Linked DNA regions of Homo sapiens. The protein of the gene in region 2 interacts with the protein of the main gene of each other region in a pairwise test. Each region holds a gene or a part of one and is shown on either strand. Other genes may lie near its edges.

The links.
Region 1: the proteins of GADD45G (region 2) and GRAMD4 interact in binary tests that used the Homo sapiens proteins (3 or more experiments, as listed by UniProt).
Region 3: the proteins of GADD45G (region 2) and CFAP44 interact in binary tests that used the Homo sapiens proteins (3 or more experiments, as listed by UniProt).

Annotation. Positions count from the first base shown.
Region 1 is NC_000022.11:46,672,276-46,676,020, reverse strand, and holds part of GRAMD4 (GRAM domain-containing protein 4), read right to left. Parts: intron 3,179-3,745; coding exon 3,024-3,178; intron 2,646-3,023; coding exon of another isoform or gene 2,523-2,645; exon of another isoform or gene 2,375-2,522; intron 2,352-2,374; coding exon 2,207-2,351; intron 1,365-2,206; coding exon 1,271-1,364; intron 554-1,270; coding exon 469-553; intron 1-468. UniProt on the Homo sapiens protein: Plays a role as a mediator of E2F1-induced apoptosis in the absence of p53/TP53. Plays a role as a mediator of E2F1-induced apoptosis in the absence of p53/TP53. Inhibits TLR9 response to nucelic acids and regulates TLR9-mediated innate immune response.
Region 2 is NC_000009.12:89,602,888-89,606,632, forward strand, and holds GADD45G (growth arrest and DNA damage-inducible protein GADD45 gamma), read left to right. Parts: upstream 1-2,124; 5' UTR 2,125-2,234; coding exon 2,235-2,287; intron 2,288-2,544; coding exon 2,545-2,646; intron 2,647-2,779; coding exon 2,780-2,993; intron 2,994-3,081; coding exon 3,082-3,192; 3' UTR 3,193-3,668; downstream 3,669-3,745. UniProt on the Homo sapiens protein: Involved in the regulation of growth and apoptosis. Mediates activation of stress-responsive MTK1/MEKK4 MAPKKK.
Region 3 is NC_000003.12:113,439,831-113,443,575, forward strand, and holds the start of CFAP44 (cilia- and flagella-associated protein 44), read right to left. Parts: upstream 1,664-3,745; 5' UTR 1,623-1,663; intron 1-1,622.

The DNA.
Region 1 (3,745 bases), on a different chromosome or scaffold from region 2:
CCCAGAAAACAAGGGACCACAGGCACTTGTGGCCACGCCCACCTGCTCATTCCATGCTACGGTAAAATGCTGAGAAAATGCCCAGAGCGGGCGCGACCATCTGAGCTCCCACCTGAAAACCTGCATCCGAGGCAGGGGCTCAGGGCCCCTGTGCTTTTCTTTATGGGGAGGGTCCCAGATACGAGGGGAACACAGCAGCCAGAGTGGGGCTTGGGTCCTGACCTCCTGGGCTCCAACCCAGCCCCTCCACTTTGAGACACACGGTCCAGGCAAGTGGACCCCAGGGCAGGGGCAGACCCACAGGGACATGGGGACTCAAGTCAAGGAAACGGACCATGGCCGGCCAGCGTGGCCGCGGCGCCCAGATGCTGACAGAGGCTGGCAGAAGTCTATAGGGAAAGCCTCGCCAGCCTCTGTCAGGTGACGAAGAAAACACGGGGGTTAGTGGGGGTGGGTAGGTGCACCAACCTTCTGGATGTCCGTGATGTCCACTAGCTTGATGACTTTGTTCCTCTTTGAGGACCCAGATTTGGAGCTTTCGAAGCACAAGTAACTGGAAGGGGAACGGACAGAGGCGTCGCCTGGCTCTTGAACCAGAGCACGCTCCCACCAGGTGGGGGTCTCCCGGGGCTGCCTCTCAGCCCCCAGTGGGATGGACAGTGGTGCTCCCTTCCCAGCAGACACAGAACCGGTGAAACACTCACGGCCACTGCTCTATATGAGACACTCACGGCCACTGCTCTGTGTGAAACACTCACAGCCACTGCTCTGAGACACTCACGGCCACTGCTCTGAGTGAGACACGGCCACTGCTCTGAGACACTCACGGCCACTGCTCTGAGTGAGACACTCACGGCCACTGCTCTGCATAAGACATTCACAGCCACTGCTCTGAGTGAGACACTCACGGCCACTGCTCTGCATGAGGCACTCAGGGCAACAAGGACTCAGGGCCTCAGCAATAGCAGGTCCCCACACGGTCCCCTCCTTGGGAGACTCTGCCCCTCGTCTCCATGAACTGCTTGGGCCCCAGAGAAGACAGCATCCCCGCCAGCCTGAGGGATGGCAGCAGTACAGCCCAGGCCACGTCCGGCTTGGAGACAACACCTTTTCCCTGGGAGCCCAGACAGCCGGCAAGAGCAGAGCATGGGAGAGGCCATGGCCACCACTCAGGAAAACCTGCACTGGGCCAGCCACGCCATCCCAGGGCCTAGGCAGCCTCCTGCGCCCCCTCCCCTGCAGCCACACAGGGCCCCACGGCTGCACTCACTTCTCCGTGACGTAGAGCACCCCGTTCCTGATGTAGTCCGTGGGCATCTTCCGGTCCCTGTTGATGAGGCAGCAGCGCCAGCCATTCTCGCACACTAATGGGAGAAGGCCCGCCTGTCACACTTTCCACTGGAAGTACCCAGCCTCTGACCTGACGCTGGGACCCAGGAGCCTGACTCTCAGATCCTGACATCCGCCCACCGCGCTCACGTCACACCCACAGTGAGAGGAAGGCGCGCCGGCAAGAGTGAGGTGGCCCCAGAGGGTGGAAAACAGATGTTTCCTCTTCAACAGGCACTGGCAGGGTTTTTAAAGTAAAAGCACCCAGGCAGAGCAGGGAGCAACAGAAGTCACAGTGTGGCCGGGACACCACCTCCAAGACCGGCAGGGTCAGGGCGCTGGGACACCACCTCCACCAAGACCGGCAGGGCCAGGGCTCAGCAGAGGACGAAGCTCCGTTCTCCGCAGCTGCCTCTGCAGCCGCTCATCACACACCTCGAGCTGCCCGGTTTAGTTTAACAGGCCCTCCCTTTGGGAAAGCTGACCTGTCCCCAGGATCCTGAGTCACCTGTCCCCTGGTGGCTCTTGTTTCTCCAGACACGATGGAACCAGGGGCAGACCCCCTGCCAGCGCCCTGCAGGCCCTGAGGCCTCGCCCTGGACTCTCTCCCCAGTGTGTTGCCTGCACGCCTGCTGTCAGGGGAGTGCTGCAGCGTGGGCGGCTCTCCCCACGGGCACGCCCTCCTCCCCTGTAGCCCGCAGAGTCCTCATGACCCCTGGCTCCTGCACTCCTCCTGGGGCAGTGGGATGTGAATGCCATCCTGAGGGCTCCTCTGGCCTGTCACAGGGCGACCCCGTCCTGCATCCACAGCGCCCCCCTCACGGGCCTTCAGTCTGTGTCGGCGCTCGGCCTGGCCTCAGACTCACGGCACACATACCCGCCAGCGGACGCTCGTTTTCTGTCAGATTGAAGATCTCGTGGAAATTGCCCTTCTTGGTGCTGTGGAAGCGACCGGCGTCCTCCTCTTTACCCAGGCCGGCCGGTGCGCTGGGTACGTAGCTCCGTGACGAGGTCGTCTGCAGCTGCCAACGGCAAACAGCGTCGAGGTCAGGCCCGCTGCCCACGCCTGCAGCACCCAGATGTGCTGGCCGCACACACACCTCCCCAAAAGCTGGGATCCAAATTTGGGAAGACGTTCCCGAGGTCCCTTCCGGCCCAGAGCGGCTCCTTCTTCCAGGCAGGGCCACCTCACCTCAGTGGGGAGAGCCCAGCAACCCTCCTGACTCATCTGAGCCACCCCGAAGGGAGCACCGAGGCCTGCTCATTCCCCGTGGTCCTGGCTGGGATGCTGTGCTGCACATCTGGAGGGCCTGTGACTGTGAATGAAATATGGCCCAGTGCCAGGCTGTGGCTCCAAGGGGGCCCTTCTCAAACTGCCTGGTCTCAGCGCCAGAGCCTCACTGTCAGGGATGGCAGGGGCCGGGCACCCCCATGGAGTGGTCACTCCCAGGCCTGCTGGCTCTCAGTCATCATGGCCAGTCCCCAGGTGTTGCCCTGGGCTTGGGAGGGGCTGGATGAGCCTCAGAAACCGCAGTGGTAACAGGGAAAAAAAAAACCCTCAAGTTTAAGGAGTCTATAAAATTGAAGAAACAGCCTCTAAATGAGCCGGAGGTGAACAGAGCACTGTGGGCCTGGGGATGCCCGGCTTCGTGGCCCCCCATCCCCCCATCCCCGCAGCTGGGGGCCGGGCTCACCCTGCGTGAGACTGCGGCGCTGGAGCGCTCCTTGAGCTGCGGGTCGGTGGGGAGACTCCTCCAGATGATATAGGGCGTGTCGTACTTGGCGCGCAGCCTCGGGCAGCGTTTAAAGATGAAATCAATGAGGAAGAACTTGATACCAGCATAGAGTCCTGAGGGCAGGGGACACAGCCTGCTCCATCTAGAGCTCTGCAGCTATGCCAGTCTACTCAGGGTGATGGTTCCGGCACCTCCCACCTCCCAGATTGGCACCCTCCACCCTGAGCCTGGATGTGAGAGTCCAGCTGCTCGCTCAGTCCTCACCCTGGATACCCCCAGCCTCGCTCCCCTGGGGCCCATTCGTGCTGCACAGTCTCAACCCCAGGCGAGGGCCCCACTGCCAGCGCCCCACCCACTCCCACTAAGACCCCTCAGCTCTGCTAGGACCCCCCCATCCAATGCCCCTCACTTCTCTCTCCAACTCCGCCTGGCTCAGGGCTGTTCTTGACCCACCTGAAACACTTCAGGACTGTGCCTCCTCTGCCCCAATTCCCCACACCTGACACCAAATCTGAGGTCCCTCCATGGCAATCCCTCCCCAAACCCCCTCCCACCTGCCCTTCTTCAACTGGGTGCCCCCCCACGCCCAGCCCATCCCTGCTGAGAGGCCGCCCATGACCAGCTGCTCAGACGGCTCCCAGCCACGCCCTCGCAAGTTCCCCTCCACCAGCTCCGTTTTC
Region 2 (3,745 bases):
AAAGTTTAATAGTTTTAAAAGAGTAATACCTATATTCCAATCACTTAAAATTAACATATTTTATCCAATCAAGGCATATCATCATTTTATACATCAAGAAAGAAAAGAAACTAGCGAACAAACGGGGCATAATGCCGCCTGGCTCCGCTTCCCCCTCCCCTCTCCCCCCGTCCTTAGGAGACACCTCTGGAGTTCAGAAATGCTAGGAGAGCAAGCTCTTCATTCTTAGAATCCAGGAAGGGCCGGGCTTTTGCAGCTCTCCTCTGCCAGGAAGCCGCTGGGGGGCGCAAGACGCCAGCTTCTCACCTTGGCAGAAGTGCCTGCCTGCAAGCGCAGAATGGAAACTTCCCCATAACAAATTCAGAAGTACCTTGTACATTCACCACCCACCTGAAGAAAGCCTGAATGAAAGGAACAAAGCCACGGCGTTGTTTACTTTCCCATTATCGCCCCAGTCTTGCGGCAGGGCCCGGGTTTCCATCCAATCCACCCGGCCCGCCACTGTCCTGGCCAGTCTCCAAGGCTTCACCCAAAAAAAGGAAGCAATGAGGTGTCCCCCAGCGCGCCTTTTCACGTAGCACAGAAGGTGCTCAGTGGGTGAATCCTCTGAAAGTGCCAGCGTGTATGGTCAAACGGCAGCAACCTCTAGCCTATTAAACTCTCCCAAGATCTCTTCCAGACTTATTCCATTGCCGGAAAAAAGGCTTTTTACATATGCGCATTTAAGTAATTAAGATATTTCAACATGGTATAAGACGTAGGGGCTCTTACTCCATCAGTACTGGATGGGAATTTCCTTTTGCCCTCTACTCCCCAGGGTAACTGCAGTCCCACCTGAATGCGTTTTGCAGCCCTTACTCGGGTTCTATTTATGCGCAGCTTGGACAGGGCTCACTGGGCCCGGCCGGGCAGCTCCGTGGCCGTCCCTCTCCACCGCCCTTCCCCCGCGCCAGGCCAATGCAAGGGTGTGTGTGTTGGGGGGAGGGGAGGACAAAAGGGGTTCAGGATCTTTTTAACCTGCCTGCAGATGGCGCCCCGGGAAAGATTCCGAGCTGCATTACCTAAGCTCCAGGGGCTGCAGCCGCGGGGTCCCGGCCACAGGGCGTCCAGCCGCGAAGACTGCACAGCAGCTCTCCGTCCTTCCCAACTCGCGCGGCTGTTCGGCACCCGTGCGAGGAACGGATGGAAGGGAATTACTTGTAGCAGGGCCAGTACTGGGGGCGTGCACTCAGGGACCACGGAGTGGCACTCAGCCTCGACCCCACGCGCCAGGCAGCCCGGCGACCCCCACGCGCGGCGGGGTCCTGCCCACCCCACCCGGCGGCAGGTGGACAGTGTTGCTATGAAGAGAAAGCCTCGATTGTCCCTACAGCAAACCGCCACACGCCAGACCTCTGCTATTGTGCGCCCTCCATAGAAATGCAAACGAGCGGCGTGCGCCGGCCGCAATCTGCTCGTCCCCGCCCGCCCCCGTCTCCCGCGCCCCGCCGCGCTCGGCCAAGGGCGGGGAGGTGGGGTGGGATCTTCCAGAGACGGCTCAATGTACACATTGAGTATGCCTGGCAGGCATCACCAGCGCGCTCGGGACGCTAGTGGTCAGCTGCAGGGGGCTGTGCCCACTGCCTTTTGCAAGCCTCTAACTGGCGCTACCTGTTTTTACCTTAATTTCTGGCTCCAATGCAACAGTCTCATAGACTTCAAATTAAAGAAAAGAAACAAATAGAAAGGTAGCAATACAAAATGCAAAAAAAAATCCCTTTGCTTCTATAAAGGTGCTTTTCGCAAATTGCAGCATCATATAAGCAAACAAGGTTTTTGTGGGTTGGGTTTTTTCTTTTTTTTTTTTTTTTACTTTTTCCTTTTAAGGACTTCAAAAAAAAAAAAAAGCCAGGCGAGATGAAATCTGCAGGCTCCAGTCTGCCTGGTAACACCCCAACAAAAGCGGCAGATTTGAGGCATTGTCATCCCCCGCACCCCTCCCCACGTGGCCTTCTGGCACGAGCCGCTGGCTCGCCGCCTCATTTACATCAGAAAGCGGGTGCCGGCCAATAGGCGCGCAGCCTCGCGCCAGCTGGCGGCGCCGCACCCACCAGCCTATATAAGGGCGCGCAGCGTAGTAGGGGCGCACTCGCTGGTGGTGGGCGCGCCGTGCTGAGCTCTGGCTGTCAGTGTGTTCGCCCGCGTCCCCTCCGCGCTCTCCGCTTGTGGATAACTAGCTGCTGGTTGATCGCACTATGACTCTGGAAGAAGTCCGCGGCCAGGACACAGTTCCGGAAAGCACAGCCAGGTGGGTTTCAGGGCGCTGAGAAAGCCGCTGGTCGGTCGGCGACCGTCAGGGTTTTCCAGGGTGGGAATCCGCGGGGTAGGAGGGGAGCGCGGGGGTCCGGGCGCCAGATCCCGGTTGGAGAGCCGGGGTGCAGGCGCTGAGCCGGGATTGGAGTGTGGTTGGAGTTGGGGAGCCAAGGGTGTGTGCCGGTGGCCGGGGCTGGGGTCTCCGCCGCGCCCTCCGGCCGGCTCCCGCTCACTGCGCTGGCTCCTCCGCAGGATGCAGGGTGCCGGGAAAGCGCTGCATGAGTTGCTGCTGTCGGCGCAGCGTCAGGGCTGCCTCACTGCCGGCGTCTACGAGTCAGCCAAAGTCTTGAACGTGTAAGTGTAGACGCGGCCCAGGCTGGGAGACAGGGGCGGGGGTGAATGGCGAGGAGACTGGCGGATGGGAGGGGTGGCGGCGGGAGAACTCGGCTAGCCGGTTCTGACCTAGGTCCCCGCCTTGCCCTCGCAGGGACCCCGACAATGTGACCTTCTGTGTGCTGGCTGCGGGTGAGGAGGACGAGGGCGACATCGCGCTGCAGATCCATTTTACGCTGATCCAGGCTTTCTGCTGCGAGAACGACATCGACATAGTGCGCGTGGGCGATGTGCAGCGGCTGGCGGCTATCGTGGGCGCCGGCGAGGAGGCGGGTGCGCCGGGCGACCTGCACTGCATCCTCATTTCGGTGAGTACAGTCCCGTCCTGTCCCCGCCCCAGTGTCGTTCCCGCCTCGGCCCGCGGCCAGCCAGGCTGACCCTGCTCTCTCTCCGCAGAACCCCAACGAGGACGCCTGGAAGGATCCCGCCTTGGAGAAGCTCAGCCTGTTTTGCGAGGAGAGCCGCAGCGTTAACGACTGGGTGCCCAGCATCACCCTCCCCGAGTGACAGCCCGGCGGGGACCTTGGTCTGATCGACGTGGTGACGCCCCGGGGCGCCTAGAGCGCGGCTGGCTCTGTGGAGGGGCCCTCCGAGGGTGCCCGAGTGCGGCGTGGAGACTGGCAGGCGGGGGGGGCGCCTGGAGAGCGAGGAGGCGCGGCCTCCCGAGGAGGGGCCCGGTGGCGGCAGGGCCAGGCTGGTCCGAGCTGAGGACTCTGCAAGTGTCTGGAGCGGCTGCTCGCCCAGGAAGGCCTAGGCTAGGACGTTGGCCTCAGGGCCAGGAAGGACAGACTGGCCGGGCAGGCGTGACTCAGCAGCCTGCGCTCGGCAGGAAGGAGCGGCGCCCTGGACTTGGTACAGTTGCAGGAGCGTGAAGGACTTAGCCGACTGCGCTGCTTTTTCAAAACGGATCCGGGCAATGCTTCGTTTTCTAAAGGATGCTGCTGTTGAAGCTTTGAATTTTACAATAAACTTTTTGAAACAAACTTATGCTCTTTATTGAGGGTAGGGGATCTTTGTGTCGGGGGAGGTGGCGTGCAGGGTTTCAGAGGATTGCTGGAAC
Region 3 (3,745 bases), on a different chromosome or scaffold from region 2:
CACTCAATCCCAGCAGTGTGCCAGAGGTGGTTATTTAAGATTCACAGTGACTGATGTATAAAACAGACTCTCGGTTTTTACTTTGCAATGTGAAATACAGCTGTGGAGAAAAAAAGTAATAGCTTGTCTTTTTTAATGTTTACTATGTGTCAAGTACAGTTCTAAGAAATTCTACACATATTATCGTACAATTCTCAAAACGACCCTATGAGGTAGGTACCATTATTATTTTATTTATGTATTTATGTATTGAGATGGAGTCTGGCTCTGTCACCCAGGCTGGAGTGCAGTGCTGCGATCTCAGCTCACCGCAAACTCCACCTCCCTGGTTCAAGCGATTCTCGTGCCTCAGCCTCCCGAGTAGCTGCGATTACAGGCGCACACCACCTCGCCCGGCTAATTTTTGTATTTTTAGTAGACGGGTTTCCCCATGTTGGCCAGACTTGTCTCGAACTCCTGACCTCAGGTGATCTACCCACCTCCGCCTCCCAAAGTGCTGGGATCACAGGCGTCAGCCACCGCGCACAGCCTATTATTATTATTTTTGAGACAAAGTCTTGCTATCCATTATTATTACTGTCATTATTTTACAGATGAGAAAGCAGCGTATTTACTCTGAATCCGTTCCTCTCACCCAATTCATGTAGATGATTTCCAAGTCCTGTTACTTGGTGTCCAGTGATTAAGCCTTTTGAATTCCTCCCCTCCCTTCATTCCTACTGTCCCTGCTGTCCCTCTGTAGTTCCAGTCCTCACTGTGTCTCACCTCTACCATTACTGTACCGTCATACTTTGTCTTCCCTTCTGTAACCCATTTTCTACACTATCGCTTGTATTTCTAAAACACAGCTTTTAATGTGTCACTCTTGCTTAAAACCTCTAATGGCTCATCACTGCTATCAAATAAGAGCTCAGATTCCTCGGTCTGGTGTAAAGGTCCCTTGTCAGAGGGTCTGTAGCTTATTGCAGCCCAGCTACAGTCACCCTCTCTCTCTCCCTAGCCTCCTTAGCCTTCTCCTCTCAAAGATTTTCATCAGTACGCACCCTTAGCAACTCATGATAGACTGGACACACTGAGCAGCACACATGTATGCGACTGTCTTTACCTATTATCCGACAAATATTTATGTGCACCTACTATGTGTCATGCATGTGCTAAGCACTTTACTTGTATTATCCTGTTTAATAATAACTCCATGAGGTCACATTATCACCTTTCTTTCTGGAGATGAGGAAGCCGAAGTGCAGAGGGCCCAGCGTGCCAAGCGTCGCACCCAGCTGAGCGCAGGGCAGGTGTCTCACTGGAGCGGGGAGCCCCAGCACCTTCCCAGCTGACTCGCTGCTGCTCTGACTTGGCCGGGTCTAAGCTGTGCTCCTGCTGCCTGGCTGGCTTCCGCCCGGTCAGACTGACAGGGTCTTGCAGGCAGGAACCGTGCACACAGTGTCTAGCTCCGAGCCTGAGAATACTCGTGGCTTCAAAAGTTTGCTGAGCTACCGCAGGGAGGACGAAGGCTATAACACTGGTCCAGCCTGAGAGAAGCCCAAGTGGGGTTCACTGCCCTCTGAGCCACAGATTTAAGGGGGAGGGTGTGGAAACTGCCGGCTGCTGAGGTCCAAACTCACCGAAGGTACTGACCGCCGCGGCTCCTCTCTTCACAGCGTCTGCCGGAGGCCTCCGTTTACTCCGGTTACCGAGACAACGCCACCCCTCTTCCAGGGAGGCGGAACCAGGGCGGGCCGTGGGGCGCATGCGCGGCCGGCGTCCAGCTCTCCGGGAACCCGGTACCTATCCGCCCTTTGGTCGGGCCTTCTCCGCCTCATGACACTGGTTCAAAGCCAAACAGAAAAGCCCGACGAGTTTATTATCCCCTAAAGGACGTCATGTAGATAATTAAATGACATGAATACCGTCGAAGATACCTGCCTGATATTCCAAAATGGCCCAACGGAGCCCTGATCGCGGCGTTCCTATGTTGAGGTTTTAACTTCGATTTTAAGAGGGGTCCTGGGAGATAGTAGGCAGCTTGCCGGCAACATCAACAACAAAGATACATCGTGGGATTTTTGTTATTTTTAAAACTATATTATCTCTGTTGGCTTTTAAGAGTAAATCAGGTTTTATGTTGTGGGTTTCTTGGTCGCAGCGCTCTGGGCACAAAAGTATAGGCCTCCCTTGACAGATTTCTAGGTTTAGCAGTTTGTTCAACCTCTCTGTAGTACTGTGGTCATATTGTTTTTTAAAGTACCTAGCCTAACGTTATTAGTTACCAAATACTTGTTTTAAAATGGTCATTCCAATATGTGACAAAGGACTTTGTATACAGAATGTATAAAGAACTCTTATAATTCAATAAGAAAAAACCACCCAATTTCTTAAATGGGCAAAGGATTTGAATACTTCACCAAATCAGATATATGTATGGCCAATAAGCACATGGATAGATGCTTAAAAGTAGTCATAAGGGAAATAGAAACCACAATACACATAACTCCACATCCACGTGAAGGGGTAAAACTTCAAAGATTGCTAACACCAAATGCAGAAGGATATGGAGCAACTGGAACTCGCATACACTGCTGTTGGGAATGTAAAATGGCATAACCACTTTGGAAAACTATTTGAGAGGTTTCTTCAAAAGTTAAACATACACAAAGTCATTCCACATCCAAGATAGTCTAGAGACTTGGGCAAAGTGGTTGCCTAGGACTTAGTGAGATGCACTGGAAAGAGACACAAGGAATCTTAGAAATGATAGAAATGCTGTGTCTTCATTGTGGTGGTAATTTCATGGGTATATACAACTGCCAAAAGCCAATAAACTGTTCTCTTTAAATGGATGTCATTTATTGTATATAAATTATTTGTCAATAAAATTGGCAAGAAAAAATTGCTATAATACAATTTGTGTTTATTAGTTTCCACAATGTTACACAAATACCATGCATTTATTTGCAATACTGAAATGTCCTCTTTAATCAAGATTTTCCAGGGCTTAAAAAAATGATTATCCTTGCTATTACTTATTAAATGGTATATCTAGGTGCCAGAAAAGATAGAAAACATAGGGTAAACTTATTTTTAAATAGCATGTTATTTATATTTTCAAATCATATGCCCAGCATGTTTTCTTTCAATCTCTAGACATCTTTTCAGGTGAAATACCTCTAAATTTCAAGCACTGTGTGCAATTGTTAATCTGAGAAAGATACAATAAATTCACTATACAATGTCTTAAAAATTGGAAACATGGGGGAAATAGTGTATTTATTTATTTATATACCAAAAAAAATTGGCAGTGATCATTACTGAGTGTTGTGAGCCAAGCTCTGATCTCAGCCCATTTACATACACTTGCCTCACTTAATCCTCACAAGCCTCTAGGGAAGACATTATGTCTGACTTTCAAATGGGAAAGATTAGATTAATTTGTCCAAAGTACACAGCTCAAGTGGCAGAAATGGCATTTGAGGCAAGATTTCTGGTTTCAGTACTTGCATCCTTAGCTACTGTACTGTATTAGTTCCCGTAAATTAGGAGAAATCCAGTAACTGCAAGAAAGAGCTTCAAGTCTTGGCTTTACCTCTTACAAGCACTCTGTCATTAGACAACTTTCTTCACCTCTAGGGCTCAGCATCCTCATCTGTAAAGGTGCTGGGAGAGGAGGAAGCATTTACATACCTCTAACTGATAGGTCTACTATGAGATTCAAATGAGATAATGGTGATACCACAGCTTATAGTACGGT